Homo sapiens: one gene and its partner. The protein of the gene in region 2 purifies or fractionates together with the protein of the main gene of each other region. This does not show direct contact. Each region holds a gene or a part of one and is shown on either strand. Other genes may lie near its edges.

Region 1 (4,708 bases), on a different chromosome or scaffold from region 2:
GATGGGGTTTCACCATGTTGGCCAGGCTAGTCTCAAACTTCTGACCTCAAGTCATCTGCCTGCCTCAGCCTCCCAAAGTGCTGGGATTACAGGCGTGAGTCATCACACCTGGCCAGTTATGTATTTTAAATGCAGCCTGCCTCTCCTTCCAGTTCTATTAAGTAACCTACTGATACTAAACCTTTCCCTACAGGATGTGATACGAATTTATGATTCAAGGGGTATTTTTAAATTTTATTTTATTTTTTAAAAGATGGAATCTCTCTGTCCCTCAGGCTGGGGTGGATTGGCACAATCATAGCTCACTGCTGCCTCAAATTCCTTGGCTCAATGGATCCTCCTGCCTCAACCTCCTTAGTAGCTGTGACTATAGGCACATGCCACTGAGCCCGGCTAATTTTTAAATTTTTTGTAGAGATGAGGTCTCACCATCTTGCCCAGGCTGGTCTCAAACCTCTGGGCTCAAGTAATCCTCTCCCTTACCCTCTCAAAGTGTTGGGATTACAGGCGTGAGCCACCACGCCTGATCTGTTTGTGTTTACAGTCATGAAAGGAGAGAAACCATTGTTGTAAAAAAAATGCCAATTCAGGCTGGGCGTGGTGGCTCATGTCTGTAATCCTAGCACTTCGAGAGGCCAAGACAGGAGAACTGCTTGAGGCCAGGAGTTTGAGACCAGCCTGGGCAACACAGAGAGACCCCACCTCTATTAAAAAAAGAAAGAAAGAAAAAACCAATTCATTATATGATTTGTTTCCCATACAGCGTTTCAAAATACTGCCAAATCAAATATCAGATTTGTGTATTTTATAATGAGATCTGTCTTGAGGAACAGTGTAATGCAATGCACGTAGAGACTATCACTGGCTAAAGCCAACCTATGAATTGTTAATATTACATTCTTATAGTCTCTGTTTCTAATCTTAATGTTCAATGCCAGGTCAGTCTAGAAACCAATCTTATGGGGCATGTGGGGAAAGAATCAGATAAAAGAGGCACACAGAATGCTCGGCTATCAGATGGAAGTACAACAATCTAAACAGGAAATATACATGTACTCTGCAGTTACAAATACTGCAGACATCATCTGTAGCCTGTAAGTCTGCGATTAAGATAAACAGAAAACCAGATGCTGGGAGGAAATATTCTGAAGAAAGGAGTTAGGTCATGGAATTACCTGGCTCTTCTTTTAAACCAATTGGTTTTCCGCTTGAACACAAAGCTGTACTCATCACTCTGTCCATACGCGATCACAATATCCTCTAGTTCTTCCATCACAGTCTGCGCACATTTGGTCATCAGCTGGAGAGCACGGCTGTCATTGGGTTTTGCAAAGTTGTGCTTCTCAGCAAACCTTCACAGGGGAAAAAGGGAAGAAAGCATGGATGGAAGCCTGTCATTAACAACACGCTCTGTTGCTAGATAACAGAGGCTGTTTGGAGGAAGATAATGTAATAGCACTGTGAACTCAAATGCTCAACTAGCCACAACCTGATCCATTTTCTTAAGAACTTAGTTTTTTTCCTGCCCTGAAATTGAGAAAGCCAGACAGAAATGCTAAGCCTCAACTCTCCTTTCTGTGAAATGGGAATAAAAGAATATTTACCTCATTGGGTTGTCCTGAAGATTAGGGAGAAGATAAAAGTAATCATACCTAGCTCCTAGTAAGTGCTCAATAAATGTTAGTTATAATAATCATTAACAATGCAGCCCTCTTCAAAGATTAAATTCCCATCTTTCTGTTATATTTCTTTCTCCCCCTCCCTCTTTTTCTGAGACAGGGTCTTGCTCTGTCACCCAAGCTGGAGTGCAGTGTCCAATCACCGCTCACTGCAGCCTTGACCTCCCAGGCTCAAGCGATCCTTCCACCTCAGCCTTCCCAGTAGCTGGAACTACATGTGTGCACCACTGCGCCGGGCAAATTAAATTTTTTCTTTTTCTTTCTTTCTCTCTTCCTTCTTTCTCTCTCTCTCTCTCTTTTTTTTTTTTTTTTTTTTTTTTTTTTTGTAGTGGCGGAGTTTCACAAACAACAACCACAGAAAAAACAAAACAAAAACAAAAACTTGGTCTCCAACTCCTGGCCTTAAGTGATCCTCCTGCCTCCCGCGCCCAGCCTTCTCTTTTTTTCTGACTCTCTGTTGAATCTAGTCCATGTGGCCTGTTACTGATAATGAAGCACAGACGTTAAGTATTGCCCACAAGCAAGGCTTACACAGACTTCTGAACAGTCAGCATTCAAAGATATCTAACAGAATAGCTAGGCAATTGGCTTAAGAGCTTAAATATTGTGCATGAGAGTGACTTTTAACAACAGGTCCTTGCTAACAAGTCTCTGTTCACTTAACACGGGCACTCCAAGCCAGATCCTCATCACGGGAGCACATCGCCCATTCAATTACGCTAACAGCCAGCGTTCAGGCACTGTCCTAGCCAACACGCAGGGCGGGGCAATGCTCCATGCTGCGCACTCATTGGCTACCGCGTTACCCTGGTAACCGTGACTGGAGCGGGCGGGAGGACTTGCAAGGGAAGAAGCTGGATTCCCCGGAAGCGCTGGCGCATCGCGACGCCCCGAGTCGAGCTCGCTCACCGATGGAAATTCCGGCCGTCCAGCCGCACTACCACCCAGCAGTGTGCCAGGCAGGTGTCGTCAGCCTCGAAGTCCCTCACGTACTCGAACTTGCTTTTTGCCATGGTCGCCCCCAATCTCAGGTACCGTCTCAGAGTGATGGAAATGGTGGCCAAGGAATCGTGAACCTTAACTTTACAGGCGCCCCACATTCTACACGCGGAAAGGAAAGGGCCAGATAGCCCCGCCCCGGAAGTGTTCTCTTCGCGGCTACTCTAGCCGTAGGGCAGTCATAGTCTCTCTCGCCTCTCCCTGTAGTTCTTAACCTCCCAGGCAAAGAGGATGGAGGTTTAGGTTCCTCCGTTAGCACCTTCCACGCTTGCTTCTTCCTCCTCCCGTCCTGCGGCAAATCAGTCTCACGAGGTTTTTAAAAATTATTTTTTATCTGCTGGTCTTGACTTACTGGCAAAAGCAATCAGTGTCCCCGTTAGTGCCCAGATCAAAATCATACCCCAACCTAAAAAAAAAAAAAAAAAAAAAAATTCTTTTTCTGGTGTTTGAAGGTGTAGCTGTGATGTTTCCCCTTTTCTTAGTGGCATTTATTAACTTGTAGAAAATCTGGAATACACCAAAACTATAGTTAAGAAAATTAACACTTTGTTTCTCCGTCTTTCCCATCAAAGCATTGTGGATGGTTCCTTTCAGTCTTTTTTCTTTTTGTGTATGTAGGTTTACACAGGGAATGCACAAGATTGGAATTATTCGCCTATACAATGTTTATATATTTTTCCACTCAGCTTGAGCATTTGCCAGTATCATCAATTATTCCAAAGTGTGATTTTTAAAAGAAAAATGGACTCAATATTCCAACATATGGGTATACTAAATTGATTTATTCAACTTTTTCACCATTAAATAATCACAGAACCAGTGTTTGATATCTTGTTGCTGGTGGATAATAGTAAAAATAAAATCCTAATATTTGTGTCATACTTTGTGATTTACAAAGCTCTTTCAAATTCATTACCTACTTACTTACTTTTTTTTTTTTTCCATCCTCAAGAAAGATATTCAGGCCAGGCACGGTGGCTGACGCCTGTAATCCCAGCACTTTGGGAGGCAGAGGCAGGAGGATTGCTTGAGTTCAGGAGATTCATACCAGCCTTGGCAACGTAGCAAGACCCCTGTTCCTACAAAAAAGAAAAAAAATTATCCAGGCTTAGTAGCCCATGCCCGTAGTCCTAGCTATGGGAGGATGAGGTGGGAAGATACTTGAGGCCAGGAGTTCGAGACTGCAGTGACCCATCATTAGCCACTGCACTCCAGCCTTGGTGACAGAGCAAGAATCTGTCTCTAAAGAAAAAGAAAAATATTCAAACAATATAAATCCTTTTATATGTAGCAAAAAGTCTCTCACTGACTCCTAACAACATACTTTAGGCAGTTACTGTTACCAGTTTTTTGTGTATCCATACAGGGATCTATATCAGTATGTGTGTATATCCTCATAATAGTACCACAAATGGTAGTCATCACTCCTTTGATGCTCAGAGTAACATCAGAGGGATGCAAAAGAGGAACTGGGATTTCACCTTTACAAAGGGGAAATCTGAGACTCAAAGAGAAAAAAATAATTTACATAAGGTCACATATGTGGCAGGACCAAGACATAAATTATGACATCCTGCATCTTTTCTTTGTTTCTGTTGCTGTGAAGTCAGTTTTCTGTAGGTTATCATTCCTCACCTTTTACTTCCACAAACTCCTCTCTCCAAGCTGACCAGGAGACAACCAAATCTTGCCTCCTCTAGGAGCCCTACTTTCATTAGGTGAATTTTTCAAAATTACTTATCAATATGAATTCATGATTTTTATTTTTTTTATGTGTATGTTTTCGAGACAGAGTCTCACTGTCACCTAGGCTGGAGTACAATGGCATGATCTCAGCTCACTGCAGCCTAGACCTCTTGGGTTCAGGTGAACCTCCCACCTCCCTTCCTAGTAGCTGGGACTACAGGTGCGTGCCACCATGCCCACCTAATATTTGTATTTTTTTTTGTAGAAACAGGGTTTCCCCATCCACATCCCACACTGGGAGATGAGACTCCTATCAGGGATGGGCTGAATATAAAATAAGCCAA
Region 2 (4,572 bases):
TAGTTGTTGATCAGATATTTACTTAAAATTTTTCCCAACCTTTTTTTTGTATAATTTTCTCCTTTATTATTACATAAAAATAACAATCAAAATTTAAATTGTAAAGCTTTTAGTAAAACATGTACTCTTAATTTATAATTTTAATTTTGGGTTTTACTCATAAACTCTCAGTTCAGTACTTCTAAATGCTTTTTTTCAAATGACTAAAACAAGAATGCAAGGTAACATTTGTACTATTTTTACTTTTCGACATCAAAAATGTCTGTCAAGATTAAAAATAAATCAGTGTCTGTGTTTAAGAATACTGAGAGCTGGTTTGAAATATTTTTCAAGGAGTTCAAAAATATGTTTTGGCGTGACTGTATTGCTCTTGCTTTTTTCATATTTTAAGTAGTATTACTTTCATTCTTATGACACTGAACCTGTTTATTCTGATGATCTAAGATATTTACAAATGAAGTGCATATCTAGTAGCGTGCAAAGTTTTTTTTTTCAGGTCTTTATTTGAAGAACCCAAATTCTCAAGTTTTACCATATGTGAACTGTTTTGAGAAGTAAGAAAAACAAATATCTTTAGTATACCACATTTGTTGTTCTAAACTTGAGTATGTTTTGATGTAGGGCCTAGGTTATTTTATTTTTTGCCCAAGGCATTCTAAGAAGTTTTATAAAATGTTGGAATTTTACCAATTTCAATAAAGTATGAACAAGGTCAGGCTAAATTCTGCTTACAGTTCTGTTTGATTTTTAAGTACATTCTAAGTTGTCTAGCGTAAAAGACAATAATATTCTGAAATCTGTGATTTGGTAAATACCATATGTTGAAAATAGACCTATAAATGGTTCTTCATTGTGTAAATATTTAACCTTACTTGTGCTGATTTATATTTCAAAGACTGTGCTTCCTTTCCTTTGAACTTTCAGGACCCCTACAAGTCTTTTGGTTTACCATCTATTGGGAGATTGTCTCAGTACCAAGAACCGTTACATCTACCTGGTGTAAGTCATTAAGCTGTAATACCAGCTGAAGGGTTAAAATCGTGATTTATGTCATACTTTTATGTTAAAGCATGTCAACACCAAAGGGTGTAAATTGAAGGACAAGTGAAATTCATGGGAATCATGGTTTTTGTGTTGAAAACAAATTTTTTTCAGTATTTTGTGGTGTTCAAGAAAGTCAGGATTCACTGGACAGGGGAAGCCTGGGGACATCTGATGATATAAATGATAGCTTACAGTGTTCCCAATTCTTTCGAAAATTATAATAAAAAAGGCTGTGAATCCTAAGAATGAGAAATGATGTTTTGTGTTACAATTTAATCTTTTCAATAAATCGAGTCCAACCCTGCTATATAGTCACTTGTCAAGAAATTCAAGCACAAAATCAGCTCCTTAATTGAAATTTAAGGAGATTGAATTAAGGCAAACAAAGTGTGCCTCAGTCTATTAAACCTCATGGACTTTAAAGAGTAATAATATTTATATCAGTTAAATAAAAGTGACCACTGTCCATTTTATTCCATAGCTCTTCTGTATTTAATAGCTATTTTGAAAATAGTTTTTGTTGCAGAAAAAGAGCAAGGACATACCCTTTTTCTTAATCAAGGTAATAAGTGCATATATATATATATATATGACATTATGTTAGCTAGTAGATGACAAGGCTGTACCATCTGTGAATATTCAAATTATTCATTTTGATTACTGGCATGAAGATGGTGAAAGATTACAGGAAGAATTCTAAATCTGAAGATATTATTGGATATATGATTTATTTCACTTTTTAAATTGTTTTTGCCCATGTGCTTTCTAAAGGGACTTGACCCTTTCTGTGCTTGGAGACTCCATGCTGTGTTCAAAGCCAGAAGGCAGAAAAAAAATTGTGAAGATTTAACAGGCATTATGTGACGTTAAATAGCACATGAGAAAACAAGTATCATAGGGACATATCTAAACACTTTTTTAATCAAACAAAAGAAGTATTAAATAAGAATTCATAATGATTACTCTAGTTGTTAGAAGTTTTCACCATGTTGTAATAGCTAACAGGATGTCAAACATTTTGCCCTCGCAAGTTTTTGCAATTTGCAATTTTCAAACGTGAGACCTGTTGAAAGTACAAGTGATAATGGACAAACTATACCCCCTACAGTCTTCATCCCACCAAATCTTTCTTCAATTAATGCTGCAGCAGGAGTTTTATGTAATAACATTTGCAGTTGTGAGCCATCCATAGAAAGAAAAAACAATTAAAATGCCTTAAATGTTCTGCTTACTGCTGTTATTTGCTTGTGTGAATGTTGCATGTCAGCTAAATGGACCAAGGAGTAGATAAAGTGATTGGGTGCAGGAGAGTGCACACTAAGCTTTGTCTATCATTATTGCTGGGAGCAATCAAATTGATGTCAGCAGGACAGTAGATGCGTTGACAGCTGTAATTATGTATCTCCATGGTGATCACTTTTGGCCTGTCATGGAGGCCCATGAGTCCCCTCCCTTGGAAGCATTTAATCAGATTGGGCTGTCACTTGTCAGGTAGACATGGCGGGCTGGGAGTTGTGCTTAGGGGGAGAGGTGAATTGAGAATGAAGGGTGGGAGATGTCTGATAGTTTCACAGAGTCCACTGTGGTACTGAAGACAGAAATTTTAATTATGCTAGAGGTTTCTGAGCAGTGGTTTGAGAATCTCGTACAGAGGTGCTTGGGTGTTTTGTTGTGGTTGTTATTGTTTGTTTTTCTTCCTTGTCTTATTAAAACTAGAGCAGTCAGTTTACCTTAGAAAACAATTTTTGGCTCTTACCTTTTTTGGTCACAAGAATGCATACTTAAGAGTTAACTTATGGTTTGTACTTTTCACATGCTTCATTAAGCCTGAGATTTATTAATATGGCAGAGGTGAAGATTTCCTTTTTTATTTTTGATCATCATGTTTTGTAAATTTGTTATTTTCAGACCACAGTTTTGTTCTGCTCAGAAATTTGGTTCTGATTTCATTTGAATTTTTTCTTAAAGTTTTTAGTGCAAATTTGTATAGCCTTTCATTGAAGGAATGGAGACTTGATCTGACTTCAGATTGGTTGTTAAGAAATAAAAATATAGCTGATTATTACTTGGAAAAAGCAGCATAAATAGTAAATTATAAAGCAGAGTTTTCATACTGTGGTACAGTTTTTAATTGGGAATACTGATTTGCTTATACAAAGATACGTGTTTATATATATCTTGATTTTATCGTATGTATTTTAAAGTTAAGATGACATAACTTCTGTGATCATAATATTAGTAAATAACAAAGACAGTTATATTTAATTAAGATCTGTAGGTAACACCTTATAGGATGATATTATTCAAGGCAACTGAAGTTTTAAGTAAGGAACTGTAGAAGAACATAATAAATATTCTTTATTGTCTATGTTATTTTATTTGTGGGTTGAACATCTAAGTTCTTCCTAGCTTTGTAGCAGTTTATGTAGCAAATGATAGGATGTAGTTAAAGTCAGAAGTTTTAGAACTTGTATCAGTCTCGTTTGTAAACACAGCATTAGCAAGCATGCTGTGGTTTTAAAGATGACATAGTGGTCAAATTAGCTCTTTCACTTTTTAGTACTAAAATTAAGAAAATGAAAACTCACAGATATATTTTCTGTTATGTAACCCGTTTACTAGTTGCCATTTTGGGGCTCTTTAATGTGGGGAAAAGGTAGATTGTGATTTTATTGCTTTTAAAGCTGCTCCATTAATTTTTTTCTAGTTTTTGTCAACACTGTGAATTTCATAGAACATCAGTTTATGTCCTGAAATATGTTTTCAGAAAATAGAAAGCCAAGTATATTTCGTAAGTGTGCTGAATGATTTTTGTTTATAATTAAGATTTTTGTATATGAATGTGAATACGAATACAGATATCTATATTTTTGTTTGTGCTTGCAAATACAGAAATAAAAGCCCTTCAGGTATGTTATAGTGTTCCTTTTACAACCTTACAAAGAGAATAATAGTAGTGTGAATTTTAAGAAAATGAAACTATCGCTTGTCTTCTGATGTCACCGTATAATAAAGCCATCATTATACCCTCATGTGGATATCCTAGACAAGAGGTTCTACATGTGGTCCCTTGATAATTGCCTAAATTAAAATATTAAAGGCCTAACAGCCGCTGTGTTGACCTTTTTCTGCCTTGCTGCAGACAGATGAGCTGCTGTTTATTAGGAAGGCTTCTTCCCACAGGTGGAAGGCTACGTGAGCTTCCGCTCTTCTCTTCCCACCCCTTTACAATGTTGGGCATCAAAGTCCTGCTGTTCCAGCAGCTTTGATTCAGTTCCTCCATCCTCAAGACCCCTAGGATGTGCCTGACAGTCTGAAGTATTTTGATTAGCTTTTAAATACTTCAGATTCCAAAACTTCTTTCTAATAATTTAATAAATGTTCTGTCCTCAGTAACTGCTCATTTTTAAAGTTTTGCATGGCTAACCTCCGTGCCTTGCTGCTGGTATCAAACTGGGAAATGAAAACAAGAATCAGTGATGTACTAACTCACTCGTTGGCTGGTTAACAGCAATCAGCCTCTTCAAA

The links. Proteins that work in one complex are often made in the same cells at the same time.
Region 1: the proteins of PCCA (region 2) and THG1L fractionate together in Homo sapiens (co-fractionation; one large-scale study listed by BioGRID). This does not show direct contact.

Annotation. Positions count from the first base shown.
Region 1 is NC_000005.10:157,729,512-157,734,219, reverse strand, and holds the start of THG1L (probable tRNA(His) guanylyltransferase), read right to left. Parts: upstream 2,801-4,708; 5' UTR 2,780-2,800; coding exon 2,589-2,779; intron 2,422-2,588; exon of another isoform or gene 2,211-2,421; intron 1,791-2,210; exon of another isoform or gene 1,610-1,790; coding exon of another isoform or gene 1,605-1,609; intron 1,353-1,604; coding exon 1,176-1,352; intron 1-1,175. UniProt on the Homo sapiens protein: Adds a GMP to the 5'-end of tRNA(His) after transcription and RNase P cleavage. This step is essential for proper recognition of the tRNA and for the fidelity of protein synthesis.
Region 2 is NC_000013.11:100,302,000-100,306,571, forward strand, and holds part of PCCA (propionyl-CoA carboxylase alpha chain, mitochondrial isoform a precursor), read left to right. Parts: intron 1-924; coding exon 925-999; intron 1,000-3,751; exon of another isoform or gene 3,752-3,835; intron 3,836-4,572. UniProt on the Homo sapiens protein: This is one of the 2 subunits of the biotin-dependent propionyl-CoA carboxylase (PCC), a mitochondrial enzyme involved in the catabolism of odd chain fatty acids, branched-chain amino acids isoleucine, threonine, methionine, and valine and other metabolites.